Linked DNA regions of Homo sapiens: all the other regions are linked to region 3. The links come from fine-mapping of genetic effects on gene expression. A gene starts in region 3. Each other region holds a variant in brackets. All regions are shown on one strand. Distances are between the middles of the regions. Region 1 has its middle 82 kb from the start of SLITRK2. Region 2 has its middle 150 kb from the start of SPANXN1. Region 3 holds the start of SLITRK2 (SLIT and NTRK like family member 2).

What was found.
Region 1: its variant is fine-mapped to the expression of SLITRK2 in fibroblasts (GTEx, PIP 0.98).
Region 2: its variant is fine-mapped to the expression of SLITRK2 in fibroblasts (GTEx, PIP 0.96).

The regions. Positions count from the first base shown.
Region 1 is chrX:145,732,038-145,738,993 of GRCh38, forward strand. No RefSeq gene overlaps it. Among named protein-coding and RNA genes, the nearest start is that of SLITRK2, 82 kb to the right of the region's middle. The variant A/G (reference allele first, on the strand shown) is at 3,162.
Region 2 is chrX:145,391,774-145,398,729 of GRCh38, forward strand. No RefSeq gene overlaps it. Among named protein-coding and RNA genes, the nearest start is that of SPANXN1, 150 kb to the left of the region's middle. The variant T/C (reference allele first, on the strand shown) is at 3,201.
Region 3 is chrX:145,814,680-145,821,635 of GRCh38, forward strand. It overlaps SLITRK2 (SLIT and NTRK like family member 2), which reads left to right and starts at 3,150. Exons shown (of 5, transcript NM_032539.5): 1 at 3,150-3,347; 2 at 5,795-5,857; 3 at 6,669-6,956.

The sequences.
Region 1 (6,956 bases), 83 kb before region 3:
TTATGTAGCTCTGTATCTTCAGTGGCTGATCAAGAGATGGTTTGTAGTAAAGGAGTCTGGATGGATGGAGGCTTGTTCAGCTGTCTAAGCTGATTGGCATCTTTACAAATACACACCCTGCCACGGCCACTCTTCCTAGTTCAACGATCCCTCAATACTCTGGCTTCAACCCTCTGTTTGGACCCTTCTTGCTCTTCACCAGTTCCCTTGGCATGGTCTTGTGTTTGGAGTCACCCTGTGCCTACCCCCTTCAGTCTGATGGCTGAGTGGGACAATCTGCCAATCTCCATCATCATTTGTCCACAGGGTAATGTTTCTTTGATAGCATCTCCATGGTTTCTTACGCTGTAGCCTCGGGAAAAATGATAGCCTATCCAAGATTCCTGAGGCAACAGGCCCAATCTTTGCTATAGTGTCCCAGGTCTCCATTTTCCTTGGAAGGAGAAATTCAAATATCAGAGGCATTGTTCATAATATTTAAGGTCAAGGGCTTTGAGATTAGATCATTCTATGAATAGGTCATATCCCCACTGAGCTACCTACTTGCTCTGTGAACTTAGACATTTTGAACTCTATAGTTCACGGTGTCCTAATCTGTAAAATGTGAATAATTATAGAAAGTACCTCATAACTGCATGGGATAGTGCCTAGCATGATGTTACATACAAAAACCATCCAAGAAATGCTAGCTATTTTGCATTCAATCAGCTCACAACACTGAACGTCTACTATATGTCAAACCTCATTTTAGTCATTTAGTGACTTAGAGACGAATGAAACACTTTGGCTGCCCTCAAGAAGTTTACATGCTGAACAAAGGCGGGTATAAATGATAAACAAGTAAGCACACGGGTGTGTGACTTTGTGTATGATACGGTTTGGATATTCATCCTCGCCAAATCTCATGTTGAAATGTAATTCCTTATGTTGGAGGTGGGGCCTGGTGGAAGTTGATTGGATCATGGGGGTAGATCCTTAATTAATGGTTTGGCACCTTCCCCTGGGTGATGTGTGAGTTCTCACCCAGTTGATTTATTTGAGATCTCGTTGTTTAAACGTGTGTGGCACCTCTCCTCTCTCTCTCTTGCTCCTGCTCTCAGCATATGATGTACCTGCTGTCATGATTGTAAGCTTCCTGAGGCCCTTACCAGAAGCAAATGCTGGCACTGTACTTCCTGTACAACCTGCAGAAACATGAGCCAATTAAACTTTTCTTTATAAATTGCATAGCCTCAGGTATTCCTTTACAGTGATGCAAACAGACTAATACAGTGTAAAACACAATATAGGGTGATTTACGTGAAAGGGAAACCTGAACCATATATTCATGTGAGCAGCTGCCCAAGGGTTTAAGCCAGTTATTTAAATGTAGTATGTACAGATGAATAGTTATAAATTGAATATTAATTGTTTAAGATAAATAACTGCAACATTTCACTTTCTAAAACCAAACAAACAAGAGTGTATAAAAAGAGGTTTAAAAGTTGGTGAGCGCTTCGTTATTCTTGATAAGACTCACCTATGGACATCTGGGTCCATCAGTTAGAGCACATCTGTGGGACCGAAAGGGACTAAGGTAATCTTGCTATGCTACTGTTGGCTGTCATACATTCCTTTGGAGTCATCTAACCTGGACCTCAGAGGGGTGCAGCATGGAAAGAGCAGAAAAGAAAGGCTTTTTCTAGGCCTAAAAGATGAGTAGCAGTGGCTGGGCGCAGTGGCTCACGCCTGTAATCCCAGCACTTTGGGAGGCCGAGGCGGGTGGATCACAAGGTCGGGAGATCGAGACCATCCCGTCTAACATGGTGAAAACCCGTCTCTACTAAAAATACAAAAAATTAGCCAGGCGTGGTGGCGGACGCCTGTAGTCCCAGCTACTCGAGAGGCTGAGGCAGGAGAATGGCGTGAACCCAGGAGGCAGAGCTTGCAGTGAGCCGAGATTGCGCCACTGCACTCCAGCATGGGTGACAGAGTGAGACTCTGTCTCAAAGAAAAAACAAAACAAAACAAAACAAAACAAAAATGATGAGTAGCAGTGAGCCAGTGAAGAGCAACAGGAAGGATGGCCCAGCTAGAGGAGGATACTCTATACCACATTAGCTTCAGTGGACACATTTTTTTTTTTAATTGAGACAGTGTCTCGCTCTTGTTGCCCAGGCTGGAGTGCAATGGTGCAATCTCAGCTCACTGCATCCTCAGCCTCTCAGGTTCAAGTGATTCTCCTGCCTCAGCCTCCCGAGTAGCTGCTATTACAGGCATGTGTCACCATGCCTGGCTAATTTTTGTATTTTTAGTACAGATGGGGTTTCACCACGTTGGCCAGGCTGGTCTCCAACTCCTGACCTCAGGTGATCCACCCACATCGGCCTCCCAAAGTGCTGGGATTACAGGCGTGAGCCACCACACCTGGCCAATGGATGCAATTTCTGATCAGGGAGCAGGGATAAAACTTATAGCCTGGTCAATGGACAAGCCCCTAAAACTAGTGCTAGCAATCACTAAAATAATAAGGTCAGTATCTTTTTGTCCATAGCCTAACTTCCACTCATTTGGATAAGACTAAACACAAGGTAAAATCATAATCAGATGAACAGGTAAATATAGTTTACACTAACCAAGCAATCCGGTATGAACAAATTTAACTAGTCTCAGAATTATATGGGTTCGATTGGCCTAATTTCACTTGTGACATTCCACCTTATTTGTGTAATACTGCTACTACACTGAGATTTATCCTTTGAATCACAGCACACCAGCGAGCCATATCTTCAGTGGGATATAATGAAGGTATAATCACAGAGCATGTGAGTAAAGTCCCCAGCAGCCTACACATGCCAATTATTCAACATTACATTTGGATGCAATTTTATTTTCCCATCGGTTGTCTAGTCAGGTAATAGATGGTAAACCTTTTTAATCCTCTTACTGATTAATAATAAAATAGCCAAGGATGTAATAATTTCTAATGGGTTTTCAATTCTATATGTTTCCAGCTTACATTTAAGAGTTAACATTAAAAAAAAAAAAAAAGAAAAGCAAAATCTTACTTCAGAAAAATTTTAGGTACTTCCTTTAGCCTGAAAAGAAAATGCTAACACCAATTATAATACATTTCTTGTATAATGTTTATTCAACTAATTTTACCTCATCCTTCTCCTAGT[A/G]TCTGAGTAACTGCATTGGAACCCATTGGGAACGTGCAGTACTGGCCACATTACTGTAGCTGACTGAGTCACATCCTTGGATTCCCAGAATTTTCTAATCTTTTGCTTTTAGGAGAAAGTAAATAAATATGAAGTATTTATTCTTTAAAAGCAGCTTCATATGGATATATTGAGAAACAAAAATGTAATTACTAATCTGTATTTTCTATATCTATAGGGTAAGCAATGAAAATTATGTAAATAAGAGTACCCTGAGTGCCTGCAAAGCATGACATTCACAAAGTCATCTATTTAGTTAAGAAGAAAGTAGTACATACAGTCCATGATCCAAGTGATGCAGTCAGACAGGGCACCCAAATTGATCCTAGATGGGAGCTTGGCAAAAGATAAGCTAGGTTGGTAAGTCCAACAGGCTTTAAACGTGGTATGAGGTACCTCTTGCCCAGAATTTCCTTGAGTCAAGCTACAGGCAGATACTTAAATTTATGCTCGAAAACAGTGCTTCTATTCACAATAGCAAAGATATGGACTCAACCTAAATGCCCATCAATGGTAGACTGAATGATGAAAATGAGGTACATATATGTACACCATGGAATACTATGCAGCTATGAAAAATAATGAGATCATGTCCTTTGCATCAACACAGATGGAACTGGAGGCCATTATCCAAAGCAAATTAACACAGGAACAGAAAACAAAATACTGAGTGATCTCACTTATAAGTGGGGGCTGAACATTGAGTACACATGGACACAAGGAAGGGAACAACAAACAACAGGACCTACTTGAGGACAGAGGGTGGGAGGAGGGTGAGGATCAAAAAACTACCTATTGGGTACTATGCTTATTACTTGGGTGATAAAACAATATGCACACCAAACCCCTGCAACATGCAGTGTACCTATAAAATAAACATGCATGTGTACCCCTGAACCTAATATAAAATTTTGAAAAAAACAGGAAAAAATAAAATAAAACAGTGCTTGATATCATCAGGTACAAGAACCCAAATTGGATTGCTTATTTAGACAAGAGGAAGAAAAAATGAAGCTACACATGGATGTATTGAGAAATAAAAATGTAATTGTTATTCTGTGTCCTCTACATCTACAGAAGTAGGCAATGAAAATTATAGTAACTCTTTATCAGATGTTAATGTGATCTGATATTATCATATTATAATATCGGATAAAGAGTTAATATCTGATAAAGAGTTAATATCTAAAATACCTAAGGAACTCAGACAATTCAATAGCAAGAGAACAAACTGACTTAAAAATGACCTAAGAGCTTAAATGGACATTTCTCAAAGTAAGACATACAAATGGCCAGCAAATACATGAAAAAATGCTCAGCACCACTAAACATTGGGACAAGCCAATTAAAAACACAATGAGATATTACCTCATATTAGTCAGAATGGCTATTATAGAAAAAGACAAAATATTAGTGCTGGTGAGGATGCAGAGAAAAGGGAACTCTTGTACACTGTTGGTGGGAATGTAAATTAGTACAGCCATTGTGGAAAATGGTATGGAGGTTCATCAAAAAACAAAAAGTAAAACTACCATATGAGCCATCAATCCCTCTCCTGGTTATATAGCCAAAGGATTTGGAATCAATATTTCAAAGAAATATCTGCACTACCATGTTTATTGCAGCACTATTCACTATATCCAAGGTATGGAATCAACCTAGGTGTCCATCAACAGATGAATGGACAAAGAATATGTGGTATATATACACAATGGAATACAATTCACCTTTTTAAAATCAGAAGAAATTTTGTCATTTCTGAAAACATTGATGAACCTGGAGGACATTATGCTAAGTAAAATAATCCAGGCACAGAAAAACAAATATTGTAGGATTTCACTTACACGTGGAATCCAAAACAATTGAACTTATGGAAACAAAGAATACACTGGTAGTTACCAGATGCTGGGGGTGTGGGTAATGGTGTTGGTCAAAGAGTATAACATTTCAGTTAGACAGGAGGAATACATTTTTTGAGATTTATGGCACAGAATGATGACTGTAGGTAACAATAATGTATTCTTGAAAATTGCTAAGGGAGTAAACTTCAAATGTTCTCTCCACAAAAAAGATAAATATTTGAGGTGATGAATATGTTAATATACTTGATTTAATCATTCCACATTGTATACATATATCATGACATCACATTTTATCCCATAAATATATACAGTTATAATTTGTCAATTTATAGCAAAATACAGTATTAGATTGCTTATCCCCAATACAAGGTAGAAAGCAGTGGGTAATGACTGGAATCAAGATGAGAAGGTCTACAAAAAAACGATAAGGAAGAGTAATGAGATAAGATATGGATAAGTGGCTTGGACTCCTGTTTTGGACTGTTGTTTATCCAGAAATGAACTTTGGATAGTGGTAGCTTTTAAACAGACTAATAGTAGGATTTTGTGTGGAATGAGCCAATCAGTTTAAAGGGAGCTAGGCACTGTGGAAAGATTCTAGGCTTATATTCTAGGTTATTTTGAAGGCTAAACCTTAAGCAGAAGCCAAAATCAGGAATCAGAAAAAAATAAAGACTCAAGGCATTAAGAGACAGAAACATCAACAGTGGAAAGAATGGTCAAACCAATGTTACCAAATTGTGCTTTTCTCATTGTGATTTGCTTTGAACAAGTTACATGTATGTGTGCCTTAAGGACACAAACCAAAACCTGATTGGCACAATAATGCCATCATCAATATGCAGCTCCACAAGGTAGAAAAAGGGGGCTGAGAGGTTTTCCCATCCAAGTGAAGCAGAGAGGATTTTTATCCCCAATCTTCAGTTAACTATATTATTAACTCCATTGATTCTTAAACATTCAAACTAGTTTAGATTCAGTTTTAGTTTTACTATTTTATTTTGCCTTCTTAATTGAAAATTTCTATCTATATACTTTATCAAGCATAAATATTGATGCTTCCTTCAATAAAATTAGGTCCCTTAATCTGTTCTCTGTGTGTGTGTGCACGTGAGTGCATATGGACATGCCTGAATTTAGCTATTATAACAGTTCGATTCTAAAAATATTCACCCCTGCATAAAAATAATTAATCCACAAGCATACCTCAGGTCTGTGGAGCTGAATATTAAACATGCTAACCAAGAAATTCAGTAAAATTGTAATACCGTATGTAGAAATCCTCTTTAAAACTCACCAGCGGTAGTTCAACTAAATGCTTGCCATTTTGCCCTTAGTTAAAAATATTTCCTTTCAAGCAAACATAGTAAGACAGGAAGCAAAGTGTAGTGAGAAAAACACATGCTCTGGAGGTTTCACATTTGCATTTAGATCTCAGCTCTGCTACTTACTAACTCAGTAAAGTTAAGCGACCTCTCTCTACATTAGCTTTTCCACAAGAAAAATGGGGATCATAGTAATACCTACCTTCTAGGGTTGATGTGTGTATCTGATGTATATGAAGGATCCCAGTAGAGTATTAGGTAGATGCAAGGCCTCAGCAAATGTTAGTTCTTCTTAATTCCTTTCCTAAGACTGTGGACGTATGTTTCTGAAGTGATATGCAAGGCTGTAAGTCTGCATGACTTCATGAATATATCTGAGTGTTATAACTAATAGAGAGAAATGGGGACGCGGTGCCCCTTTGATATGGTTAGGCTTTGTGTCTCCACCCAAATCTCATCTTGAATTGCAATCCCCATAATCCCCATGTGTCAAGGGAGACACCAGGTGGAGGTGATTGAATCATGGGGGCAGTTTTCCCCATGCTGTTCTCATGATAGTGAGTGAGTTC
Region 2 (6,956 bases), 420 kb before region 3:
TATTCTATGGTTAACAGGTGGAGTATTTTGTAGACTTCTATTAGGTCCCATTGGTCAAGCATTGTGTTTAAGTCCAGAATTTGTTTTGTTGGTTTTCTGTCTTGATGATCTCTCCAACACTGTCAGTCTGGTGTTGAATTATTATTTTGTGTCTAAGTCTTTTCATAGGTGTAGAAGTACTTGTTTTATGAATATGAGTGCTCCAATGTTGGGTGCATATATATATTTAGGATGCCTAAGTCTTCTTGTTGAATTGAACATGTTATCATTATGTGATGCCATTCTTTGTCCTTCTTTACTGTTGTTGGTTTAAAGTATGTTTTATTTGAAATAAGAATAGTGACCTATGTTTTTTATTTTTTCTGTTTGCATGGTAGATCTTTCTGTCACCCTTTATTGTAAGCCTATGATTATAGTTATGTCTTAGTTGGGTCTCTTGAAGACAGCAGATGGATGAGTCTAGTTCTTTTATCCATCTTGCCACTCTGTGTCTTTGAAGTGAGGGTGTTTAGACCATTTACATTCAAAGTTAATAGTGATATATGAGGTTTTAATCCCATCATGAAGTTTTCAGCTGTTTGCTTTGCAGTTTCCATTGTGTGGTTGTTTTATAAAGTCTGCAGGCTATGTGCTTAAGTGTGTTTTTGTGGTAGCAGGTATTATTCTTTGTTTTCCATGTTGAGAACTCCCTTGAGGATCTCTTGTCAAGCTAGTCTAGTGTTAATGAGTTCCCTTCACACTTGCTTATCTGGAAAATGTTTTATATCTCCCTGGCTTATGAAACTTCATTTGGCAAGGTATAACGTTAGTGACTGGCATTTCTTTTCTTTAAGAATGCTGAAAATAGATCCCCAGTCACTCTTGGCTTGTAAGGTTTCTGTTGAGAAGTCCGCATTTAGCCTGCTGAGTTTCCCTTTTCATGTAATCTTACCTTTCTCTATAGCTGAATTTTAGATTTTCTTCTTTAGGGTTGATCTTGAACATTCTAGTGAGTATATGCCTTCGTGATGTTCATTTTGTATAGTATCTTGCAGGTGTTGTCTGGATTTCTTATATCTAAATGTCTACCTCTCTAACAAGATTAGAAAAGTTTTCTTAAATTATTCCCTCAAATATGTTTTCCAGGCTGTTTACTTTTTCTCTGTCTGTCTCAGGAATGCTAGTAATTCATAGGTTTGGTTGCTTTACATAATCCCATATTTCTTGAAAACATTGTTTATTTTTATTTTTTTTCTTTATTTTTATCTGACTGGGCTGATTTGAAAGACTGGTCTTCAAGCTCTTAAATTTCTTTACTTGGCTTGGCCCAGTCTATTGATAAAGCTTTCAATTGTATTTTGAAATTCCTTAAGTGAATTTTCAATTCCAGAAGCTAATTTATTTGTTTTTATGATGTTTCTCTTCCTTCATTTCCTGAATTGCTTTAGACTTTTCTTTGTGTCAATTTTCAACCTTGTCTTGGATCTCATTGAGCTTCCTGGCAATATATACTTTGAATTCTTTATCTGTCATTTCTGAGTTTCCATTTTGGCTAAGGACCATTGCTGGAGAGCTAGTGTGATCTTTTGGTGGTGTCACTACATTTCAGATTTTTCATAGTGCCAGAATTCTCGTGCTGGTTCCCCATAATTTGGAGATGCTGCTGACATTTCTAATTTTTTAGTCATTCTTGTATGGGTAAGATTTTTAATTTTTTTTTCTTTCTTTCCACATGATTCCCTTTGCACTTGCTTCTCTGGAAAATATTTTCATTTCTCATTCACTTATGAAGCCTTCTTTGGTGGGATATAAAATTATTGATTGGAATCTCTTTTCTCTAGATATGCTAACAGTAGGCCACCAATCTCTCCAGACTTGCAAGATTTCTGATGAGAAGTATGCTGTTAACCTGATGACTTTCCCTTTGTAAGTAATATGAACTTTTTCTCTAGTTACCGTTAAGATTTTTTATTTCCCTTTTCCTCTCCACCCCCTCTTTGGGGTGTAGCTGTAGAGAGTGCTGGGTAGGGTCTTTTGACTTTGCTTCTAGAGCCCTATGCACTTCTTTCAGCAGGTTTTGTATCGGGATGTGCAGTTTGACCCGTAAGCCAGTAGATGGCGCTTATAAGTGAGAGCTGGCTGCAGCCAATATAGCTGGATATAAACTTGGTCCTAATTTACTGCCTGAAGCTCTCTGTTGCCTCAGGCAATGGGCTGATTTGTGGAATGTACAGTGGTCTCAGCTCCTGCTCAGCACCTGGGGGCAGAGGCCATGATGGGTGGGTCTGAACCGGGCAGGTCTGCCTACAGGTCTCCCAGAGGCAGGCACGAGCACCAGTGCCATGGGACAATCCAGTGGGTGGCTGCCAAGCACCCAGAAGTGTGTCTAGGTGTGGAGCTGGGAAACCTCCTCAGCCCCATGCTCTCTGCATGGGATCAGGAGTGGCCTAAACTCCTAATTAAAGAGAGTGGGTCTTCCAGAAGCCTGGAGACCTGCCTGGGCGTGCAGTGGAAAGGGCCTCCTTCCACCAGGATCTTTGCACAGGAAATATGGGGTGGGTCAGGCTGCTGATCCAGTTGAGGTGCTGCTCTGAATGCCTGGAAATCTGCCTGGGTGTGAAGCAGAGAGTGCCCTGTTGCACCATGATCTATGCCAATGAAGGGTAAGACAGCTCAGGGTCTTGAACCAGGTGAACTAGTGCTCCAAATGCCTGAATTTCTGCCTGGGGGTGGAGCAGAGAGGGCCCTGCTGCACCACAATCTCAAGAGAGTAGGGTGGGGCAAGCAGCAATGGCATATGCAGATCAGTTTCAGGTCACCAAGCTGGCTCCAGCTGCAAGTCTCACCACCCAAGGGAAACTGCAGCTGTAGTGGCTCTCTTCCCACCCCAGACTTGGTGGGGGTTGGAAGAACCAATTCCAGTACCTACTGCTGAGATGCTTTCCACAGTTTGGGCTGTGGAGGCCCCTACCCACTCAAAAGCAGGTGATCCAATCTCTTTTCGAAGACTAAAATACCTGTGTGGCCACACTGCCGAGTTGCCACGAATGGCTGACTTCATATGTGCCTGGATTTAAACGGCATCCTGCTCTTGATTGTTGGTCTGGAACAGCGTCTGCAACATTTTCTGGTGTCTTTCTCTCACAACATCTCCAAGCCTTTCCCCACTTTAACTTTAAGGTTTGGAAGAAACAAAATGCTCTCCCTTGACCGGGGTTGCT[T/C]GGATTCCCAGTAGAAAGGTGAGTCACAGAAGGAGGTTCTCTGCTTCTCTCATATATTAGGGGTTCACTCACTTTTATCAGCCAAATGTCATAAGGGGGGCTGTTTGCTGACATTCTCCTCCCCAGGATCTGGGATGTTCTTCATGATTCCAGTGGATTCCTATTTTTCTTCTTGAATTAAAGCACACAGAGTTCACCTTTATGCACTATCTTGCGATTTCCCAAGTCACAGGGGCATGCTAAAAGCCTCTAATCTGCCATCTTGGACTTGTTTGTCATCATTTTTGAAATTCTTTCTTTGTTCACTTTAAAAATGTTATCACATAGACTTTTGACTCTTTTTTCGGGGGGGATGAGGTGAGAGGGAAGGCAGCTGTTATTCATATCATTGTTCCTGTGTGTGAAATGGATTATTTTTCTCTGGTTGTCAAGATGTTCTCATTATCATTGCATTTTAGCAGTTTGACTATGATGTGTCACAATGTGATATGCTTTGAATTTGTCTACCTTGGAATTAGTTGAAATTCTTAAATCTGTAAATTTATGTTTTTCACCAATTTTTGAATTTTCTGACTTTTTTCCTCGTATATGTATATTTTGTGCTGCAATTTTTCTTTCTTCTACTTCTCAACTACAATAAGTGTATGTTACATCATTCAATATTTCCTCACAGGTCACTTGGGATTCTTCTTTCTTTTTTCTAATGTTTTCTCTCTTCTCTGGATTTTATGATTTTTTCTTTTCTTGTTGCCCAGGCTGGAGTGTAATGGCACGATCTCGGCTCACTGCAACCTCTGCCCCCCAGGTTCAAGCAATTCTCCTTCCTCAGCCTCCCAATTATCTGGAATTACAAGCACCCACTGCCACACCCGGCTAATTTTTGTATTTTTAGTAGAGATGGGGTTTCACCATGTTGTCCAGGCTGGTCTGGAACTCCTAACCTCTGGTGATCCACCCTCCTCGGCGTCCTAAAGTGCTGGGATTACAGGTGTGAGCCACCGCACCTGGCCAATTGTATGGTTTTTATTGGTATATGTATAAATTCACTGACATTTTGTTCTTTCCTCTTCATTTAGCTGTTAATATTATCTGGTGAATTTATTACTTCTAGTATAGTATATTTTCATTTCTAGGATTTCCAAGTTTTTATTATTTTAATTCATCTGCTAAGATTTCCCATAAGTTAACTTATTGTGAATATATTTTATGTTTTTGAACACATTTATAGTTGTCGTTTAAAAGTGCTTACCTGTTATTCCGGCATCTAGGTAAACTCTAAATTACACCCCATTGACAGTGTTTTCAATTTGTTTTCTTGACTAAAGATAAAAATCTCATTTCTTCACATGTCTACCAACATCTGATTAGGTACTGAGTAATGTAAATGACATTTTTTAGAGACTCTATGTCCTGCCATCTCCTTTTGAAAAGTGTTTTGTTTTGTTTTTTTTTTTGGTAGGGGATATATCAGGCAGTTAACTTGTTTATAATCAGATTCCAAATTCTGTCTCTCTTGTGGTGGGCAGCATCTGAAATTGTCAATCAACTTCCTTCGATTTCCTGCTATTACTTTATATTGTACTTCTTGCAGTATCCCCATGTATAGTTCTAAGGATTCATATAGATCTTACATACAGATTTGCGTGGAGCTCATACACAAATTGTATGGCCATCCCCTCTATGGCTTCCCTGGTACTGCAACTTCCACTCTTCCTGTCACTCCAGAAGCACTGAACTCCCGCTTTGAGTTTTCAACCTTATATGTCTGCATGTTTATGTCAAATTTCTAGTCACACAATGCTGCATAAACTGTCAACATGCAAAGAGCCAAATAAATAGTAGTGTCACACAGTGACATTCAATCATTGATTCCTGTTCAGTTTCTACTTACTTTTGGTCACTCTTCAGTGCCTTCAACTAGTTATCTTTTAAATATTTCATATAGAGTTTATTACTTTATCTGACAGACAGCTTGTCTAATATAATCTATTCTGCCATTAATGGAATTTGGAAGCTGGTATACTATTTATTCTTGGTTAGATATTTGTACAATTACTTTATCTTAAACTCTGTCTCAATGGCTAGATTGTGTAATTTTACTTGTAAAAAGTCTTGTTCACTCTTTTAACCACCTAAGCCTAGCTCATTAACTGGCAAAAAGGTCTTCTTTACTGTTTTAATCCCAGCATTAAACACAGTCCTGGCATTAAAAGAGACATAATACATATTTAAGAAGTGTGTAAGGAATTTACTATAATACATTATCATTTACAAAAATTTGCTTCCTCACTTGCAAAAGGATTATATCCAGCCTTGTTGAACTCAGGAAAAGCTATGTTATATGCTTTGGCCAATGACATGCTAGTGAGTAGTGATGGTGTCCCATTTTCAGTCAGAATCTTTAAGATTATTTTTTTCTCCACAACTATGGAGTCATGGAAGCATGTGTTGAGATGAAGCTCCTATGATCCTGGGTCTCAGGATAGCCATGATGAGATGAGAAAAGTCATATTTTAAAGCAGAATAGAAATAGAGTGAAAAAGGAAATATACAAAGAAATACACACAGCACAGTATTGTCACTGAGATTTGTAAGTTGTTTGTTACTACAACTTTATTTAGTCTTGCTTTACTTACATATGCAATAATGAAACAATAACAAAGTTACCCAGGTCAACCCCATCATATAGAATACAACCTCCATGAGAGCAGGGATTTTTTGTCTATATTGTTCATTGCTGCATTCCCGGTGCCTAAAACAGTGTGTGGAATAGTATAGGTTCTCAATAAATTTTTATAAATTAATTTGTCGAATTAATTTAACATGGATCATAAATTAAGGTCAACATCAGTGGAAAATAAAGAAATATAACTTCTCGTTATTTGAAATAATGACACTGAACAGAGCTCCAACCTTTGGAAACACTCTTCAGTCTACATTCTCCACTATTTGGACCTTTGTTTCTGCATCACAAATATACATGCTTGTGTTTGCTAGTTGTAAGTAGAAACTGAAGAAAGTCACTATTGACTTTAATGCAAAAGGAATGGATCTTAGAAAATTAAACATCCAAAGTGACATCAGCAAGATGAATAGGAAGTCCCAGTTTTCTTCCACCCACAAAACACCAATTTAGTTATGATACACGAACCAAACTACCTTTATGAGAGGTCCAGAATCCAGTTAAGAGGTTGTAGTACCTCAGATGAGCACAACACTGAGAACAGCCAATACTGAAATGGATAAGAAGAGCAACTTCAATGTACCAACCTTAGTAATTCCCCCAATATTGCACAGCTCAGTACCATGAGCGAGCACCTTGGCTTACAACTTTCTTCTTAGGTGGAATGAGATTATGTCTAATGTTTCCGGATTTTTGGGTGAACTGCCTGAAGAACCAGTTTCTGTCTTTTCCTGTCTTTCCTCATCCGGAGCACTGGCAGAGCTGGCATAGTTCCTATGTCTTGGGGCACTTAAGAACAAAGAAGAGTGTCAGACAGCTTGCTGAAGCTGGTACAGCTCTGCAAGATTGAGACAAGGTGCAGAATCTGTGGCAACTCTCCCAGAAAGAAGGAGAAATGGAGTATGCTTCCGGTATCTCAACCTATGGTATAGCAGTAAGACAGCAAAGAGCCCAAAAGATTTCAGGCTTCTGAAAGAAAATCAACCAATAAATCCCTTTTAGTAGAAATCTACAGACAAAAATCCAAAGAAGACATCTGTAGAAAAGGTTTGAGAAGCTACCAGAATCTCTAG
Region 3 (6,956 bases):
GGAATTTGAACCCAGGTCATTGGGCTCCAAGGGCTTGGATATGTATTTGATTAAAAGAAAAACTGCCCTGGGTCTTGGCCCAGCACTATTTCAATCAGGCCAAAATGCCTGCCAAATAATCCAAATAATTGAATTGAATTGAAAAATATCCACCTTTTCAATAACATCAGGAACAAAAGTCTACAATATCCTGTAAACTATAATTACTAATATTAAGGGCATGTCCGCTTTGTTGCGTTTCTTTATTTAGGAATTTGTTCTGTGGCACTCTTCTTTGAAACCTTTGGTTGGAAAGAAACTATGTTCACTGAAAATGCAGCACATTTTGTCTTCTTTTATATGTTTTAAAGCTTTCTAGTTCTGGATAGGTGTGAAGAAGTTGAAAAAGCAACATTCTCAGGTAAATTACGTACTACACAGTAATAGGACATCCTTTACATCATCCTGGAAACATATGCGCTTTTTATCTCACTCATCGCAGGTGAAATTTCTGGTTTTCTTCTAACCTTAGAATGAAATTATAAAAACCCAGGCAAGATTTAGTTTTATTTCTCTGTTTTTCCACTAGTTTTCCAATCGGGATCTCTATGTTGTTTAGTAACACGAACTTCACAATAGAAAGTAGCTTACAGTAAACCAAACCCCCACCACATGCAATTTACCTATATAACAAACTTGCACACGTACACCTGAACCTAAAATAAAAGTTTTTCAAAAAGAAAACAGCACATGGATATAAAGATACATTTACAGTGCTAGTATAAAGAAGAATAATGTGATTTTTATTAATGAACAGAAGTACATTAATATGGTGTCTCTAGTATTCAATTCTATTTGGAAATTTTCCTCTAACACAGAAGCTTTTAGAAAATTCAGCATAAAGCAGCTTTCAAATAAATTGGCATATTTAAATTTTTCACAGACTTCAAACTCTCCTCCATTATAACTGTCTATGCAAAACCCTCTCAGAAAGTTTTATATTGCTCATCAATTTTCGTGTCTGTGCATTCAAAGCACAGCTATCCACCTACTTGAAAATTTTATGCTGACAAAAAGAAAAGTCTGCTCTTTTTAATTTTGTCTTACTATCAGTGTGGTCCCATGTGGAAAGGCAGGCTGCTAAATGCTTTTCGAAGGCTGGTGAACAGGTTAGACTTGCTTACAAGGCTAATTAAAATTGATGCATGCCATCTATTACATGTTACTACTGGATCTAAATAAAGTATCACTTTTCATCATTAATGCCATGTTCCTTCTCTACTCTGTATAGAAGTTTTTGCTTATTTTGTATGTTCCCTTTGGCTACAGACACATCACCCTTCTTAGTAAACTGTCTGAGTTTTTCAGCATGACTGTCTCATTATTTCTGTATTGGAATGGCCTCTTAGCTCTGTGTTTTGCAGTTGTTTATAACATCTACTAAAAGCGACATGAAAAGATGACACAGTCAGAAATACGGTAAAGACAGAAGTAACAGTATTAACTGACCTCATTTAGTTAATAATATGATGTGCTCAGTGCACTGCTTTTAGTCTGTAGCAAACAGCACATTGGATGTTTACACTAATACAGATATTGTAAAAAGAAGAGCAATGCTTCTGGATATATAACCGTACATACACTGCCCACGTGCTTATGTGAGAACTATGTTATTCCGAAGTTGCTTATCTGAATGGTAGGAAGATTTCAAAAAGGCTTTCTCAAGAATGAAATAAAAGGAACAGTAATGACCCTTACAACTCCGAAGATACGATTATAATTCTTCCGACTATTATTAAAGCAAACTCTGTACATCTTCATAATATAAGATTGCCAGTAGTTTTCTTTTTAAAAAGCCCAGCATAATCTCCTTAGAAAACCATTATGAAAGAAAGCCAAGAAGAGAGGACAGGAGAAGCACAAAAGATTCCCACGGGAAGGACAAGAAAAAGGTGGTTGTCAGTGCTGTGAGAACGAGTTGAAAGGCATGGGAAATATGGAAACAGACAAATTCCAATGCAGATCCACTAGCTGGAGAGGTAATTTTGCGTCTAATTTTGCACCTCTCTCCTCGCCTCCCCGTCTGCTCTCCACCATCACGCTTTTCGACAGTAAGAAGGATTTGGGGTTTTGCAGACTCTAGCGGGCATGAAAAGGATAGGGGGTGGCAACGACTTGAATTAATGACGTTCTCCTACAGGATGGAGGGGAAAATGACTTAGTGTCATCAAATGAACTCCCTACTCCTGGCATAAATTTATCAAACTGCAACTTTATCTCGAATACTCTGGAAGAGTAGAGGAGAGGCCCTAGAGAAAGCAAGTCTTGAGGGGAAACGCAATGCTCTTGGCAAAAACCGCACCTCCCTCTTGAACTACACTGACTCTTTTCACAGAGCGCCTTCCTTTAATAGAATCACAACCACCTGGACTACTAATAAGAGGAAGAAGAAAGGAGAAAAGGGAAGGGAGGATGGCAAAAATCACGCTCTAGAAGATCCAGGCAACGTCGTCGTGAAGAATAAAGGGAATCAAAATGGGCACTGGAACGCTGCTAAGGGCTTGCTTTGTTAACACACTTGCACAACTCAAGTTCAGCTCTATCTTATGTTGAAAGTCCTTGTTTACGATCCTCGTAGGAGGTTCTTAAATATCTGCCTGCGAACTCCCAAAGACTGGGCGCTTACTAGTTAGGGGAGGCAGCTGTCCCGGAGGGTGTCCAGCTCGGATGGCTGACTGCTCTTTCACTTGTCGTTAACTTCCACCCAGTAGTCTTAGTCTCCCCTTGGACATGGTACCGACCGTGTGCCATTCTTATTTCACTTGACCGAGCCCGAGCTGCAGCCCAGGGTGGAAGCCGCAAGGGCTGGGCAGAGTTCCAGGCAAGAGGGACCGAGAGGCGTGAGCAGTGCTCCGCAGCGCTTGTCAGAGAAATGGAGCAGCGGCTCCTTTGTGGGCTCTTACATCCCCGTCCTGGGTGCACAGCCCGGATATTTGATCTGTGGGGTGATTGATAAGTGAGGGAGAGGGGGGACGCGATCCCTCCCTCCCTCCTCCCTCCCTCCTCCCTCCTCACTCCCTCCTCCCTCCTCCCTCCCTCCTCCCTCCTCCCTCCCTTCTTCCCCTCTCCTCCCTCCCGCTTTACTTCCCTCCTCCCTCTCGCCTCCCTCCCTCCTTCCTGCAAGAAGCGTTGCCCGTTGGCTAGCTGCTCGGTGGGGATCTGCCTGCCCTGGGGGCGCCGCCCGCGCTCCCCGCGGTGCTCTCGCTCCTGGGCTGCGCCAGTCCGAGGCGGTGCCGGCTCCTTTGCCTCCCCGAGTCGCAGATGCTGCGGGCGCCTCCGGGAAAAGATCTGGGCGGCGCGCTCGCTCGGTAAGTTCTGAGCACTCAGGGACGCGGTGGCGACGCGGCCAGTGAGCCGGCTTTCCTCAGTCCGTTGCCTTTCCCGGCCACCTCTCCTTGCGAGGGGCACCAGCGTGGGGAGGCTGGGCGCCATCCGCGGAGGGCAGCTCGCTGGCGGCCGCCCTCTACCCTCAATCCCCACTGGAGATTCCTCACCCCGGGACCGTCCGCGCGGGCGTGGTCGGGCTCCGCGCCTCGCGCAGCGGGGTGGCACAGGCGGCCAGGGAGGGCCCACGCACCCGGCGCGAGCTAGAAGCCTCCGGTCGGCCTGCAGTGCCCAAGTCCCATGGCGAGGGCAGCCCGAGTGGCCGTCGCGGCTGTAGGTCCGCATGCCGGGCACCGCACCAGGCGTCTAGCAGGTAGGGGCAGGGAAGGTAGGGCTGCGCTGGCGGCCGGTGCCCAGTTACCGGCGATCGGGGACGCTCGGAGACACCTGGTCTCCCGGAAGCGCCCTTCGGAAATGGGATTCGACCCGGCTTGCGGGCGGCGGGTGTTTAGAAGAAGAGGCTGCGGGCAAGCAGTGCCCCCTCTCTGGTTCCCCGGACTCCTCTTAGCCCCCTCGTGGCCTGATGGGCGGCCGGGACGGAGGTGGGCTGTAAGCCCGCCGGCACCCACCGTGTCCTGTGGAAGGCTTGGAGACCTGAGCCAGGCTCTACTCGGTTAGATGCGAGTGAGACAGGCGACGGAGTTCGTCTTTAAGCCTCCCTTGCCTCAGCAAGGAGAGGGAGCGTTTTCCTTATTTTAATGACCGCCTTTCCCTCCCTTGGGGTCCCAGTTCACCCTGAACCTTTCCACAGCCTTAAAAGCCCGCTCTCCCTAGCGGAGTGCTGCGGCAGTTCTTCAGAAGACACGGGGCCAAATGAAACTTACTTAAAGTGGTTATCGCGTTTCAGGCTGATTTGTTCCTAGTAACTACGTTTTGGAAAGCAGCTGTGGACTCTCAAGGACAGGCAGGAACGAAGACCTCCTTAGGGTCCGAGTGTCGCTTCCCACAGTTAGATTACCCATGAATTTCCTTGATTCTGTAGGTCTCAAGAATCTCATGAGCCCCCAACCACCTCCACCTTTCTCTCTGAATCTCTCTCCTGTCTCTGAAATTCTTCGCAAAAATAATCTGTCCTCAAGGAATATTGAAAGCGTCATCAATGTCTTGAAGGAAATTACTGTATCTGAGAACCGAAACTAGTATTTGATGTTTCACTTTCAAATACATTTTTTTTTAATAAAAAGGATACCTTTAAGTAAAACACTACCACTGCTATTTACGTTTAAGTAGATTTTTAATTCATATTAAGCAGTAGTGTGCTTTTTGGAAAGATGATGGACTGGGACTCATAATCCCTGGGTTTTGTTTCTATTTGTAGTTTCTTGAGTAAGTCAGCACTTTCCCTGGTTAAGAAATGACCTCATCTGTAAAATGAACCTGACTTCTAAGGTCTTGTTCGGCTCTCACGTCTTTACTTCAGTTAAATATTGACATAATACATGTTTGTTGAATGAATGACTGAATGAATAAATCTTATTGCTCTAGGAACTATGTGCTTTTAACCTTTGGAAATACATAGAAACAAATGCCTCCTTTGCTAGGAAAGGGAGCTTAATTGTGCTCCCACTGCATCAGACTGCTTCCATCTAATGATGCAATTGCAATACAGGGTGGGAGGCCATCCACAGGGCTGTCCCTCTGCCTCAGAGCTCATCTCAAGTTTGCCCTTCTCTATGGAGAAGGAAAATTTGAGTCTCCAGAAGGAAAGTATTTTGCTAAACGCCAAGCAAGAATTAGAGGGTAAGGGGGCTTCTGATGCCTGGTCCAAGGCTCTTAGAAGAAGAAGAAGGAGAAAGGGAGAAAGCTCAAGAAAATAATGCACAGATCACCAGCTACAGGTGGCCCTAGTGCCTAAGTTTATAAACTACCCCCGCCCTTCCCGGAGAGAAAGGAGCTTGTATAAAGGGAACAATCCTAGAACCTAGGCTTAACAAGGAAGGAGAAGGGGAGAAGCAAGGGTCATTCTGTTCTCAAGTGGTTTGTTGTATCTGTGTGTTTATCTATTCCACATTTGGCCAGGCAGTGGGACTCCGGGAAAGCAAGCTGAAGTGTTTTGTGGGACAGGCACATCATTTGGTCAACTCCTTTTCCCTGGTTGATTCCCTCCTTTTCCTGACCCATCTCCCCCTTCCTACCAGAGGCAACCAAGGCCTTTCCAGGCAACAGCAGACATTATTTACCCCTTGCGAATTGATTCCACAATGGAAGACTCTTGGGTCCAAGGAGCTGTAAGATAATTAAGGAGAAAACAGATAATGAAGGCAAAAATCCAACACCTGGCCATTAGCAATGCTCTGGAAAGGCTATTTAAACCCGCATTGGATATCAGAGCTGGGAGGGCCCATACAGTCTACCTACCTGCCTTTTGCAGATGGACACAGGAAGATCCAGAAGCTAGTGGCACATCTAGCAACAGAGCCAGATCAGAACCCAGGTAAGCTCGGTCTCAGGCCAGGATTCCTTTTCCATCTCCTCTCTTTCTCAGGAGCCAGTCTTCCTGCACCAGCTTCCTCTTTTCTCCTAGCTCCCCTGCCCCTGCAGCCTGGAGGGCTCAACCACCCTTCCTTTGGCTCCCACTCCCAGCTGAGGCTCAGCCTGGCAGTGCTTTTCTGACACCCACTTCTTTTCTCCTTCCTCCAGGCAAGAAGTGCACGTTTAAACCTCATTATCTGGCTAAGTATAAACCTCAGGGAGAAAAGGGGTTTGTTTTTGTTTTTCTCAGTCTATAAGCTAACATTGAGCTGACTTTCAGAGTCCAGGCAAATATGTTTGGTGGGTCACCACCCAGAAAGGAATTCTCTTAGCACTGAATCAGGGCTCTGTATGTAAAGTATAAATCCCCTAAGAGAACTCCTCACCCTCCTACACAGACACATTGGTGCATGCACACACACCCCACTCTCTGCACAGAGAGCATCTGAGCTAGGAGCTGGCAAGTGGGGCACCAGTCCTGTAGCAAAGAGGCACACCACACACACACACACACACACACACACACACTCTCTCTCTCTCTCTCTCTCACTCACACACACACACACACACACACACACACGCTTCTCCCTTGCTTGGGAATCTGGGAGAAGAACCCCCCACCCCCACCCCTGCCCTCCATAGGCATTGTGTAGGTGAGAGAAAGAGGGAGGAGTGAGAGAGAACACACAGAGGGGCCCAAGGAGGTGCCAGGCCATTAGCAGGGCCCCTCCTTGAGAAACCCCTCTGCAGGAGCTTCTCCTGCCGCCAGCCAGGTTGGAGGTGGAGTAGTTCAGAATCAACTGACGCAGCCGGGAATTGAGCTTTGCAAAGCCACTTGCAAGGAAGGGAAGCATCTGCCCAACCCTCCCCCACCGCGCGCCCTGGATCCTCTGCCTGCCCCCTCCCCCGTGACGTCACCCTAGTCCTGTCCCGGGGAGCCTGCAAAGCCTCTCAGATTCAAACTGCTAGACGCACTGCTGCCACCGCCACCGAATTGGAAACGCGCGCCCAGGCTCCGTCGTCGCCTTCGCCCGCCGACCGGGCCAGCCGGCTCTCCGACC